Homo sapiens: one gene and its partner. The protein of the gene in region 2 interacts with the protein of the main gene of each other region in a biochemical or structural test. Each region holds a gene or a part of one and is shown on either strand. Other genes may lie near its edges.

Region 1 (7,436 bases), on a different chromosome or scaffold from region 2:
CAGAATTGTAATGTTAAAGACTCTTTAAATCACACTTCAAAACTTTTAGCTCATAATTATAATAACACAACCTATTATTTAAATGCACTCACTCACATTTTAAAAATAAAAAATACAGTGAACAGCATTTTTCTTTTAGATATTTTACTAGATTGTTTGGACTAGAATATAACTAGAATGTGTATGTAGCAATAGACATTTTAAAAACTCAAATAACCTACAATTTTCAAACTGAGAGAAAAAGAAGAACATCAAAAAGAGGAGAAAAGAGCTGGCTTAGGCAACTGTTATCTCTGTAAAGGGCTAATTCTCTTTCTTCTGCAAGGAAAGGAGATAAAATTCGATGCAGAAAAACTCATCTGTACACAAATACACAAAAGAGAGTCACTGCAGTTGATTTAAAAATACTCAGGCCCTTCACAATATTTTAAATAAACTTCTATTGCTGAAACAACTTTCAAGTAAGGGCATAAGGATAATACAGGGAGGTCCCAAATACCCCTTATTTTTCTGTATTGTTAGCATCTTGCATAACCATGGTACATTTGTCAAAACTAAGAAAGTAATAATGGTACACTACTATTAAACTTGAGACTATTCATATTTCAGTAGTTTTTCCACTAATGTCTATTTTCTCTAGGATCCAGTTCAACACAGCACACTGCATTCAGTCATCAATTAAGTTTCCTTAGTTTCCTCTGGTCTGTTACAGTATTTCAATCTTTCCTTGTTCCCCACGACGTTGATAGTTTTGAGGAATACTGATCAGGTGTTTTATAGAATGTCCTTCAATTTTAGTTTGATTTTTTTTTTTTCATGTTTAGACTAGATTGGGTTATAGGTTTTGAGAATACCACAGAGGTGAATTGCCCTTCTCATCACAGTATATTGGGAGTATATGCTATCAACATGACTTGATGATATTAACTTTGACCACCTGGCCAAGACAGTGTTTCCAGGTTTCTGTACTATGAAGTTACTCTCCTCCTCCCTTTCCATACTCTGTTCTTTGGAAGTTAGTCACTAAGTCCAGCCCACACTCAAGGAAGGAGGGAAAATAAGCTCCACCTGATGAAGGGGGACGTATTGTGTTAAGCTGAATAACGGTCCCCCAAATATGTTTACATTCTAATCTCCTGTCATTGTTCTATAGCAAAAGGCAGTTTTTGCAGATGTGATTAAATTGAGGAACTTGAGTAGGAAGAATATCCTGGATTATCTCAGCAGGCCCAATATAATTAATTACAAGGATCCTTGTAAGACGGAGGCAAGGTCAAAAATGACAGAAGGTGATGTGAATACAAAAGCGGAGATTATAGTCATGCGGCCAGAAGCCAAAAAACAACATAAAAGAGGGTGGAAAGCAGAGAAGACAAGATGTGATATAAAAGCCAAATTTTATATGAAGGTACCAAAATTTGATCAGAATCCCAAAATCCTTGAAAATAAACTGTAAATTTGACATATAAGGGTCATTTTTTGTTCCTCAGATTGGCAAAAACTGAAAATCAATTATATCTAGTGATGGTGACTAGGCAGGAATATAAACAGCTGATAGGAATAGAAATTATTCCTTTAGGGAAAGATAATCTGACAACGCATCTTAAAAGTTTAAACAAATTCTTTGATTAAGCAAGTTCAAAAACCTAGTTTTTTTTTTTTTTTTTTTTATAAAGTGTCACTCTGTTGCTCAGTCTGGAGTGCAGTGACATGATCTTAGCTCACTGCAACCTCAAACTCCTGGGTTGAAGCAATCCTCTGCCTCAGTCTCCCTGAGTAGCTAGGGCAACAGGCACGAGCCACCGCACCTGGCTAGTTTTAAATTTTTTTGCAGAGACAGGATCCTGCTATGTTGCTCAGGCTGGTCGCAAACTCCCGGCCTCAAATAATCCTCCCATCTTGGCTTCCCAAAGCGCTAGCATTACAGGTGTGAGCCACTGCGCCCAGCCTAGAAATGTTTCCTAGAAATAAAAGCACAAGTTTGTAAACATAAATGTGGAAGGATGTATATGGTGGCATTAACTTAATGCTGACTTTTTTGTTCTTAATTTGGCACAAAAAGGTGTTTATAAGTGCTCTACTTGTTTCTGAACATTTATTTCTCCTCATAGTTAATTCCTAAACAAATCTTATTCCCTTTACCTACAAAATATGTTCTAGATCTGTTCACTCCTCTCTACCAACATTGTTTTTCCTAGTCAATAAACATAGATCAACCTAATAAAAATTGCATAATACTCTTAATTTTGGATATATCATAAATATGCTACCATTGTTTTTTAAGTCTTTTGCTACTATAATTAACAGTATGAATTACAGTGGAGATTTAATGTTTAACTTCAAAAAGACTCCATAGAGTCTGACGAATGCAAACATATTTACAGTAACTTTTCTTACACTCACTAGATTACTTTGATTTTCGGTTTTATTGGCAAGAGTGATTCGTGAAAACCATGACTAGATGAACATTGGAGGAAACATTCCCAAGCATTAATCACTTAATTTTAGTTTTGTACATTTTTTTCTGTCTAATGTTACCTTTGTTGTAAAATTATCTTTTTTTAAGGAATGCTTTGTAAAGCTTAGTTCTAATATTACAGAATTCATAGTTATGTAATTAATCTCAAAATCACTCACCATTGAAGACCCTTGCTATTTTTATTTCCTATAACACGAAGTCTATTATCTCCTTAATAATTTTTAATTTCCATCCTTAGAACTTCTTCAGCTCTGCTACTTTTTCCTTAAGGCCAGGGTCATAGGCAGCACACTGGTGATAACTCACTGTCTAGAAATATTGCATTTTGTTTACAAAGTTATTTTCTATGTTCAGCATTTTGCTGGCTGCCTTGGGTACAGTACCTCAATTGAATGTCTACACCTGCATATTTGTGGACATTGAAATCATCTACCATTTTTCAGAGACACTACCTTGTGATATAAAAAAACAGAAGCCAAAAAAAAAAAAATCCCAAGGAATTTCTGAAGGAGCCTCTCTTCACTACTCTGCTCTTGTTAGAATAATGAGTAACACTGGTATAACATTCTACAATTTACAAGAATATTTATCTGCTTCATGAAACCTCAAAACAAACCTTTGAGACTATCAGGATCCTAACCACTTTACAGATGAAGATAACTTACATAATAGTTATGGGGTTTCCTGGATCTGACTCCTTTATTCTTCACATTACATTATGTTGCCTTCCCCACAACTAATCAAGGACTCCGTTTTTTCTTTTTTCTTTCTCGAAACCATTTCCTCCATATTAGTTCCCTTTGGAATAGAAGCCTTTTTAAAAGTCCACCTTAGTATATCTTCAGGGAATCACAAATTCACTATGCTATTTATAATTCATGAGTTTCTCTAATGGTATCAAGGCAGCAAATACAGGTGAAGTAATAATTATCCACCTGATAGTACTTAACACACATACCCCGTGTAAAAATACTGCTGGTGTACAGTGTGTGTGTTGGTGACGCCGGAGGAAGTGGCCGTGAACAGGCTTAATGCCGCATTGAGTAACTTCAACCTCATCTTGCTCAGGTTCATATCTCTCCTGAATTTCCCCTGGTAAGCGCAAGATTCAGGATCCGTTCTCACAGTTTTTTGTTTACCAGTTGATGTTGGCTGCATTCAGGAACGCCTTGCTCTCTTAAGCCACAGTGCCTTCCTGGTCTCTTCTTCACAGGGTCTTCCACAATCGCTCTTTTTCCTGGGCACGGTGGTTTGCTGAAAGTCGGGGTGGGGGGCGGGGCGTTCCCAAGTTTCCAGGCCAATTACCTACCTGCCTTAGAGCAATTACGCACTTCTCTCTGGTAGTCCCTGAAATGTTCTAATCATCAGATCGCCCCAGCTTCTCCTGACCGTTTCTTGCTTACGGCTCAGTTCAGACAGTATTTGTTCCGGGACGCTCAGCGGGAGGCGGTTTTTACCGGCTCACTCGAGACCCCAATTCCAGGCGCCCTGCAGCTTCCCTCAGACTCCCCGGGACCGTGTTTGGCCTTCCCATTCGTACGCTGCGGCTGCGCTTTCCTCTCGTAACACCACGCTGGCGAACCTGGAAAGGATCAAATAGTCCCACTCGCCAACCTAGCGCGGCGGGACCGGCCCAAAAGGGCCTTTGCAGCCTGCGCATGCGGACTCGGCGGCCGCCACCGACTCCCCGTCTGCTTCCCTCCGGGCGGCAGCCGCGGTTTGGAGCTTGCTGACAGCTCTGCGACCGGCGGGCGCAGCCTCGTCTCGTGCTTCCACGTTATCCTATCAGGGACGGGGCGGGGCGGCGGCCTCCGCAGCCTATCAGCGCGAACCACGACCCCGGCGAGCCCGGGAGGAAAGCCGCCAGAAAGAAGGCGATTGGATGGCGGCGGCGCTCTGGGGCGTAGCGTCGCCCGGGCCCCGCCCACCGCTGCCTTCCTCTGCTGGGCTCCAGAGCCACTGAGGCCTGAGCGAGAGCCGACGGCGGGCGGGCGCAGCTGCTGCCGGAGCGCCGGCGCGTGCTGGTGGGCCACACACCTTTCCTCCTCTTCACTCGCGAGCCCTCGGACATGGTGGCCCCCGGCTCCGTGACCAGCCGGCTGGGCTCGGTATTCCCCTTCCTGCTAGTCCTGGTGGATCTGCAGTACGAAGGTGAGTCCTGCCCTGCCCCGGCCAGGAAGTGGGCTCCCGGACCAGGCCCCCCGCGCTTTCCCGTCTGCGCCCGGGCGCCTGTCCCGGAGCGGCTCGGGAGGTGGGGCGAGCGCTGGGGGAGCCCGCGGCCTGGCTTGGGCCTGAGCCCGCGCCCGGTTCCGGGTTTGTCTGGGGAAGAATCGAGGGGACTGGCGGGCCGCGGGGCCGGGACAGCGGGTTTGGACTAAGGAACCGGGCCGCAGGAGTCGGAGGAGGCGGGGTGCGGGGGCACCGGGCTACGACTTCAGGAAGTCCTGGGACGCGGAGACTTGGGCAGCCTTTGGGTCCTGGCCTCGCTTGGGACCCTCGCTGGGCGCCTGGGGACACTGTCAGTCATTGGTGCTGGCTGGGAGGAGGCACTAAGGTGGCCAAAAGACTTCCTTCGCTCTGGAGTTCTTGGGTGGGGAAGGAGTGTCATGTCCGGCTGGGAGTTGGAGGGGACAGTGTTGACTATTTAAAAAGTGTGTAACCATCCCCATTAAGATGCACTGTCGTGTAGAGAAATTGTTAGTTTGGTGCAATGAGGAGCCGCTGTTGGAATTCCATCTCCCGGACGGCCAGGCACTGAGTTTGTGGTTTTACAACTCCCAACATGGTGTCATTCAACGTATGGCTGGCATTACTTTTCCAAGTTCGCTGTAAAAAGGTTCCCTTAAAAAGATACGAACGATTAAATTTCACTTCAGTCCTGCAGACTGGAATGTTGGCTACTCCAGAATAGCGAAAATAGAGGGCTGTCCTATCTTAGATGGCAGCGGGGAGGAGTAAGAATTAAAGTTGATAGTGCCGATTTAACGAATGCTTCTGGCGCGGTTACTGTGCGAAATATTCGAGTGTAATGACACATCACATGCACTGATCTATTTTCATCCCCATAAAAAGGGCTAGTTGTCAAGGAGGTCAAATTAAACCTTTGAGTATTCCATTCAAAGGGAGCGAGGAACTAAAAATTGGGAATTGTTTATAGTGAATTCTTCTGAAAGTTCTCAACTTTTTTTTTTAAAGTAGTACTCCCCAGTTTTTAGGTGTCACCCATAGCAATGGGCTTTTGCTTTTGCTTCCCCTGGTAACCATATTTTTTGAACCCCAAATCAGAACACGTAGTGTGGCAACATTGGGACAAAGAATTTGACAGTGAGGCTGCCCCCAGAAAAATCTAGGGGATTGGAATTTGAAGGTCTGTACCACTTTAATATGGGTCATATATTCTAGTTCTTTTGCATTTTCAAAAGCTTCATTCCTCCTGCCCCCGCACCCCACCATCCCTCATCTGTAGTATTTATCTCCAGTTATCATTAATAATTTATTTTGGACACTTAAGAGAAAGTTGCCTATGTTCTGTTTAATGGTGATTTTTTTTTTTAAGTTACAGAGATGCACAATTTTGAATGATTGCTTTTCCCACTACTTTTTAGAATTGCTGTTCTGTATATGAGTCTGTAAGGACTCTTAACTCTTCATTTCCCTCCTGTGGTATTTTCCATAAGAAAACCACATTTGAGAGCTTTTCTGTGTAGGAGGCACTGGTGACATTTCTCAGAGGAGTGCCAGAGTGTCTTCTTTAGGACCATTGTCTGTGTAAAATAGCAGGGACTTAGTACAGGTAACAGAAAAAGGAAAGAAAGGAGCCTTTCTGTAAGCCATATCTTATTCACGAAAGCGTGTGGTATTCATTCCTACTTTACAGACCAGGGAACTGAGGCTCCAAAGGTTTTACTAAAGTTCATTTTGTGTGCACGCTGGAGACAGAAGTTAAGTAGTTGACAACATCATGTGAGTCCAAGCACTTTTAAGTGATGGCAGCTGAGAAAAAAAATCAGCACTTTTTTTTTTTTTTTTTTTTTGTAATTAACAAGAAGGTTATTTCCTGGGAGGTTTAATACAGTGGTTCTCAAACTTGAGTGTGCATCAGAATCGCACATGGAGGGCTTTTTAAAACAGAGTGCTGTACCCCACTTACAGAGTTTGATTCATTAGGTCTTGATGGGACCTGAAATTTTGCGTTTCTAGAAAGACCCTGGATGACCACACTTGAGAACCACTGGTGTAATAAATTATATAGAGGAGTTAAATTAGGTGTCTGCTATGTATTTGACACTGGATTTGGTGATAGGGATATAAAGGTAAGAACTCTGACTTGAATTAGCAAACCGTTAGCCCCTGTTTTCCCAAATAAATTGTGTCTGGATTCACTAATCTCATAGTTCTCTGAAAGGCAAATGGTGCTACTGCTAGGCCTGAGGCTTAATAAAATTGTGTTGTATTAAGGATTTTTGTTAAATAGGTAGGTTTTAGCTGCTCTTGTCACACAAAAAGTAATTATGTGAGATGATAGATATATTAATCTGCTTCACTCTTATTAATCTGCTTCACTATTGTAACCATTTTATGTGTGTATATCTCATAATACTATGTTGTAAACATCAAATATATACAATACAATTCACTTTTAAAAAAAGAAATGAAGGAGAATGGTTATGAGAGAAGTGAATGTGGAACTAAGAGTGGCACAGGATGGGGAAGAGATAACCTAGTGTTTTTCTGATTTTGAAATATTTGCCTTTGTTTTCTTCTAGATTTTTCTGTTAATTGTCATCCAGAGACAGAAAGTATATATCATGAATTGAAAGTTTGAGTCTTTTGGCACCCTCCCTTCTCAAAGGCGTTTGAAAGAGTGAAGTCTAAAGCACTAGATGAGATCGAATTTTTGGAATAGAAAGAAAACTTTAGTAGTATCTGCTTTAGTATTCTCATGTTACAGATAAGG
Region 2 (7,023 bases):
GTTCTGTTACATTGTTTAGAGAATAATGACAAGAACAAAAATCTGTGTGTTCAGTATAGACACAACCATCCTTTTCTTTTTTTTTTTTTTGAGACAGAGTCTCGCTCTTGTTGCCCAGGCTGGAGTGCAAGGGTGCGATCTCAGCTCACCGCAACCTCCGCCTCCCGGGTTCAAGCAATTCTCCTGCCTCAGCCCCCCGAGTAGCTGGGATCACAGGCATGTGCCACCACGCCCGGCTCTTTTTGTATTTTTAGTAGAGACGAGGGTTCTCCATGTTGGTCAGGCTGGTCTTGAACTCCCGACCTCAGGTGATCCTCCCGCCTCAGCTTCCCAAAGTGCTGGGATTACAGACGTGAGCCACCATGCCCGGCACAACCATCCATTTTCAAATAATACCTAGATTATTTATGATACTTAATACATTTATGTGTTTGTAACACCTACTACAATGTAAATGCTATGTAAATAGTTATGCTACGTTATGTAGGGGAAGAATGAGAAAAAAAGTCTGTACATGTTCAAGATAGATACAACCATCCATTTTTTCCCCAGCATTTTCAATGCATGGTTGGTTAAATCCATAGATATGAAGTGTAATATGTATCAGGATGAGGAGCTCAATCACTTGCTGTCCTGTAGCTATCATTTCCCTGTAGTCTGTCCCTCAGAGAGCCTCACATATCTCACAGCAGGCATACTCTTCCTGACCCACCATCCTTATAAACGTGCAGTCCGTAGGATAAGGAGGGGATGTCCAGGTTGACCAGCCTGCTGATGTTTCTTGTTATCAGCACCATGTCCAGTGCTGCCCAACAGGCATCCTGCTGTCTTCAGCTGTCACTGGCATTGCTGCTTTTCTGCCACAGAAAGTAACAGGTGGCTCATGATTTAAGCATTGTAGAGGGTTGGAAGGAAAGTAAAGGATGCAGCTGGAAAGTTCTTCCTTTGTCTAACCCTATTGGTGCCACTTGGCCTACTATGCTCTGTGTATGCTCTGTGTATCTCTTCCATGCTGGTACTTTCACCTTCTGCTTCTCAGGGATTTCTCATCACTTTTGTGTTGAGTCCTGAGATTCAGCAACCTCCTTCTTATGGGACATCTCCAGGGTTAAATTGGGAAGTAAGATGATTTGTGTCCTCTTGAATTTAACTCCAAGTGCCATGGTGTATTTTTGTGCCTTTCATTAGCCAGTAAACACTTATAACCCAAAGTTACGATGATTTAGGTAGAAAATAAGCAAAATGATGTATTCTTTTTTCCCTAAGACTTTGTTATAACCTTGGAGTCATTAACAGCTTATTCTGGTTTTCTCATTGTCTGTTTGTTTGAAGAATGTGTACTATATAAAGAATTTATGCTCTTGAAAGAATTAAATTGACTCAGAATAGGCATTTGTATTTGTGAGTCTAAGATGATACACTAGAGGTCAGTTTTTTAAAGATGATTTGTTTTTTTCTTTTTTTTTCTTGACATTTAGAGTGAAGATGAAATCAGGACACTGAAACAGAAAAAAAGTAAGTGATAGTGTTAATGACTCAACTTCTGAATGCCTTTTAAAAAGGCCTTGACCTGGTAAGGACAAATAAATATGTTCTGTGTTGAAAACCTACCTTGAGAATGAATGTAGGAGTGTGCTCAATTTTGTCCTGTGTTTTGGAATTATCTATGAGACTAAAGTCTAATTTTAGTTTGTCTTTATTGAGTGCTGCAATGCCACACACTATGCTATATGCAGGCCTCATGGAGGTGACGCCTCCTCTCTCAGTGTGGTAGGGGTGGCAGGCACACAGTGCTCCATTGTAGGGAAGGAAGGGCAACAGTAGAGGCATGCACTGAATCTCTTTTTCTGTCCACCCAGTTGTGGTATGTAATAAATTCTTTGTAAATGTTTAAGGACTAAATGCTGTGGGGGCACATAGTGCCATTGTGAGTAGTGGTCACAACAGCCTTTCTGGAGGTGCTGATGTCCGAATTATGTCACCAAAGGACGAGGGCTAGAAGCTGTTTTTCTTCTTGTCAGTTATTAGTTACTCCTCCTCCTCTGTTTCTTCCTCCTATTGCTGTTATTATTAACGTAGCATTTTATTGAGTGCTTACTGATGCCAAATCATTGTTCTAAGTGCTTTACTTGTATTAATTAATTTAATTCTCACAATAGCCGTGAGATAAGTACTGTTATTTCCCTCTTTATGGATGAGGAGATATGGACTTGGGCAAAGAGAGGGAAAGGTATTCTGTGCACGAAACAGGGTGCTGTTTTGGGGAACTACACTCATTTTAGTGTTGTTAAAGTTTGTGATAACCCATTATGGTTAGAAAATAGCCTAGAGAGGACCCCAGAGGCCAGAACTTGCAGACTTGTGGGCTATTAGCAATAGGGAACCACTGAGGGGTTTATAAGTAGGTGATAACAGGGACCTGATTTCCATGGTACATAGAGTACTCTGTTGGATTAGAAAAGGTAACACTGGAGGCATGGAGGCTAGTTAGACTGTCAACTGACCAAATAAAAGTTGAAAGGCCTTGAATTAAGGCAATGGTAGAGAGAGTAAAGGGAATAGATTCAAGGAACTTAAGAAATTTGTATACCTATGACACCTAAAAAGATGTCCAAAAGAAGAGGGACTTGACTTTTCAGTTTGAACTCTTTGCTCTTTAATGAACTTCTTTTTGAAAAAAATAAAAGCAAGAGAATTAGTACTTGTTAATTGGAAGTGGAGAAATAATGGAGGAGAGAGGGAGGGAGCCAGACAGGCAGGCGTCCAGGATAACCTCTTGCTTTCTGGCTTGGGAAGCCTCCCTAGTATAGAACCACTGCTGTGTCACATATAATGAATAGCAGTGTCATCTGATTTGAGGAGGGGTGAAGGAAGGATGCTCCCTGCATTTTTCTGAACCCTTATGAAGCTCTGAAGCATGGCTCACACAGGCTCCGGTCAGACTAGATTTCCCTTTGTACTTGGGCAGCCTGCTTCCCTCTTCTACCTTAGTGCTTGTGCTAGAATAATTCTCACCAACTGAAATGCCCTCCTTGTTCATGTCCCCCTTATTTATCCTTGTCATCAAATGCAACTTCTGAATTTTTGTTTCTCCCCACCGCCCTCCATAGTCTTTTTTCTTTTTGAGACGGAGTCTCACTCTGTTGCCCAGGCTGGAGTGCAGTGGCACGATCTCGGCTAACTATAACCTCTGCCTCCTGGGTTCAGGCAATTGTCCTGCCTCAGCCTCCCGAGTAGCTGGGACTACAGGCATGTGCCACCACGCCCAGCTAATTTTTGTATTTTTAGTAGAGATGGGGTTTCACCATATTGGCCAGGCTGGTCTCAAACTCCTGACCTCGTGATCCACCCACCTCAGCCTCCCAAAGTGCTGGGATTACAGGCGTAAGCCACTGCACCCCCGGCCCTAGTCTTATGTTCTAAGAACTAGGTTTTAACTGTGCCTCCTCAGATTTGGATTATTTTCCTGCAGACACCACTGACCTGTATGACTATGGGCAGGGCATTTAGCCTGTAGGGCCTCAGTTTTCCTATCCCCTGTGAAGAGATTAGGCTAAGATGTGTGATATTCTAATACTAGCCCTAAGAGTTACATTAATCTCCTTTATATTATACTGGTTTGTACAGCTGTCCCATCTCCCATATAAATGTGTGGCATAATGGTTTGATAAAAACAGCATCAGCATGGATCTTGGAGCCAGACGCACTTGGATTTCAACTTTACTTCCATTCTTCTAACTGTATTTGTGATCTTGGGCAAGTTACTTAGTGTCCTTGTTTGTCAAGTGGGGCCGATACCACCTGCCTGAACAGAGAGTAATGTGATGCATATAAAATACTAAGCACAGTACCTTAGTAATTAGTTCTGTCCCACTTTGTTTTTCTGAGGGCATGGACTGTCATTCATTACATATGTGGAAAGTCTTGTTAAGTGTATTTTAAAAATTAGGCCGGATGTGGTATCTCACACCTTTAATCCTTGTACTTTGGAGCTGAGGTGGGAGGATCACTTGAGGCCAGGAGTTCAAGACCAGCCTGGGCAACATAGTGAGACTCCCCGCTCTACTTCTTAAAAAAAAAAAATTATTCCTATCTTGTAACAGCATTTACATCTAGGATTAAAATATATCTCTTTACACTGTTTGTCTCTCCCACTAGGATGTGTCTTATCTTAGTGTCTTATTTTAATCTCTGTCCTAGTCTGTGGTCTAGTAAATACCCTATGAATATTGAATGAATGAGTTTGTGGATTTTAAATATTTAACCAAAGATGTAATATTTTTTGTTGTGTATGGTTTTTCATGAGCCTGTTTGTAAAATTAATTCTTTGTTTTCCAGTTGATGAAACTTCTGAGCAGGAACAAAAACATAAAGAAACCAACAATAGCAATGCTCAGAACCCCAGCGAAGAAGAGGGTGAAGGGCAAGATGAGGACATTTTACCTCTAACCCTTGAAGAGAAGGAAAACAAAGAATACCTAAAATCTCTATTTGAAATCTTGATTCTGATGGGAAAGCAAAACATACCTCTGGATGGACATGAGGCTGATGAAATCCCAGAAGGTCTCTTTACTCCAGATAACTTTCAGGCACTGCTGGAGTGTCGGATAAATTCTGGTGAAGAGGTTCTGAGAAAGCGGTTTGAGACAACAGCAGTTAACACGTTGTTTTGTTCAAAAACACAGCAGAGGCAGATGCTAGAGATCTGTGAGAGCTGTATTCGAGAAGAAACTCTCAGGGAAGTGAGAGACTCACACTTCTTTTCCATTATCACTGACGATGTAGTGGACATAGCAGGGGAAGAGCACCTACCTGTGTTGGTGAGGTTTGTTGATGAATCTCATAACCTAAGAGAGGAATTTATAGGCTTCCTGCCTTATGAAGCCGATGCAGAAATTTTGGCTGTGAAATTTCACACTATGATAACTGAGAAGTGGGGATTAAATATGGAGTATTGTCGTGGCCAGGCTTACATTGTCTCTAGTGGATTTTCTTCCAAAATGAAAGTTGTTGCTTCTAGACTTTTAGAGAAATATCCCCAAGCTATCTACACACTCTGCTCTTCCTGTGCCTTAAATATGTGGTTGGCAAAATCAGTACCTGTTATGGGAGTATCTGTTGCATTAGGAACAATTGAGGAAGTTTGTTCTTTTTTCCATCGATCACCACAACTGCTTTTAGAACTTGACAACGTAATTTCTGTTCTTTTTCAGAACAGTAAAGAAAGGGGTAAAGAACTGAAGGAAATCTGCCATTCTCAGTGGACAGGCAGGCATGATGCTTTTGAAATTTTAGTGGAACTCCTGCAAGCACTTGTTTTATGTTTAGATGGTATAAATAGTGACACAAATATTAGATGGAATAACTATATAGCTGGCCGAGCATTTGTACTCTGCAGTGCAGTGTCAGATTTTGATTTCATTGTTACTATTGTTGTTCTTAAAAATGTCCTATCTTTTACAAGAGCCTTTGGGAAAAACCTCCAGGGGCAAACCTCTGATGTCTTCTTTGCGGCCGGTAGCTTGACTGCAGTACTGCATTCACTCAACGAAGTGATGGAAAATATTGAAGTTTATCATGAATTTTGGTTTGAGGAAGCCACAAATTTGGCAACCAAACTTGATATTCAAATGAAACTCCCTGGGAAATTCCGCAGAGCTCACCAGGGTAACTTGGAATCTCAGCTAACCTCTGAGAGTTACTATAAAGAAACCCTAAGTGTCCCAACAGTGGAGCACATTATTCAGGAACTTAAAGATATATTCTCAGAACAGCACCTCAAAGCTCTTAAATGCTTATCTCTGGTACCCTCAGTCATGGGACAACTCAAATTCAATACGTCGGAGGAACACCATGCTGACATGTATAGAAGTGACTTACCCAATCCTGACACGCTGTCAGCTGAGCTTCATTGTTGGAGAATCAAATGGAAACACAGGGGGAAAGATATAGAGCTTCCGTCCACCATCTATGAAGCCCTCCACCTGCCTGACATCAAGTTTTTTCCTAATGTGTATGCATTGCTGAAGGTCCTGTGTATTCTTCCTGTGATGAAGGTTGAGAATGAGCGGTATGAAAATGGACGAAAGCGTCTTAAAGCATATTTGAGGAACACTTTGACAGACCAAAGGTCAAGTAACTTGGCTTTGCTTAACATAAATTTTGATATAAAACACGACCTGGATTTAATGGTGGACACATATATTAAACTCTATACAAGTAAGTCAGAGCTTCCTACAGATAATTCCGAAACTGTGGAAAATACCTAAGAGACTTTTAAAAATAGGCTTTCTTATATTTGATATTTGGAAGAAAAAGCCGTAAGGTGTATGTAGACCACTTAATCACTAAATATCTTTGCCTATAGGACTCCATTGAATACATTAGCCATTGATAATCTACCTGTTTAAATGGCCCCTGTTTGAACTCTCAAGCTTTGAAGACCTACCTGTTCTTCCAGAAGAGAACGTTGAAAGTGCCATGTTTCCTTTTGCGTGATCTCTGTTGATGGCACTCTGGAATTGTTTCAGTTAAGTCATTTTAGACATAGCATTTATTATCACTGTGGATCTCTACTTGTTGGGTGTTATGAATTCTTTGAAGAAATATATTTTGAAGAGGTGTGGGAGGAAGGAATACATTTTATAAAATGTTGTAGTGAAGCCCACAATTGACCTTTGACTAATAGGAGTTTTAAGTATGTTAAAAATCTATACTGGACAGTTACAAGAAATTACCGGAGAAAAGCTTGTGAGCTCACCAAACAAGGATTTCAGTGTAGATTTTGTCTTTCTTGAACTTAAAGAAACAAATGACAAAGTTTGAATGGAAAAGCCTGCTGTTGTTCCACATCTCGTTGCTGTTTACATTCCTTTGTGGAGCCTACATCTTCCTAAGCTTTTTAGCAGGTATATGTTGAACACTTCTGTTTCATGGTTGAGACAGAATCAGAGGCCATGGATACTGACAACTGATTTGTCTGTTTTTTTTCTCTGTCTTTTTCCATGACTCTTATATACTGCC

What was found. The genes of interacting proteins can lie anywhere in the genome.
Region 1: the proteins of THAP12 (region 2) and DNAJC3 form a complex in vitro, tested with the Homo sapiens proteins (2 studies listed by BioGRID).

Annotation. Positions count from the first base shown.
Region 1 is NC_000013.11:95,672,708-95,680,143, forward strand, and holds the start of DNAJC3 (dnaJ homolog subfamily C member 3 precursor), read left to right. Parts: upstream 1-4,431; 5' UTR 4,432-4,548; coding exon 4,549-4,630; intron 4,631-7,436. UniProt on the Homo sapiens protein: Involved in the unfolded protein response (UPR) during endoplasmic reticulum (ER) stress.
Region 2 is NC_000011.10:76,350,110-76,357,132, reverse strand, and holds part of THAP12 (52 kDa repressor of the inhibitor of the protein kinase), read left to right. Parts: intron 1-1,478; coding exon 1,479-1,515; intron 1,516-4,338; coding exon 4,339-6,269; 3' UTR 6,270-7,023. UniProt on the Homo sapiens protein: Upstream regulator of interferon-induced serine/threonine protein kinase R (PKR). May block the PKR-inhibitory function of DNAJC3, resulting in restoration of kinase activity and suppression of cell growth.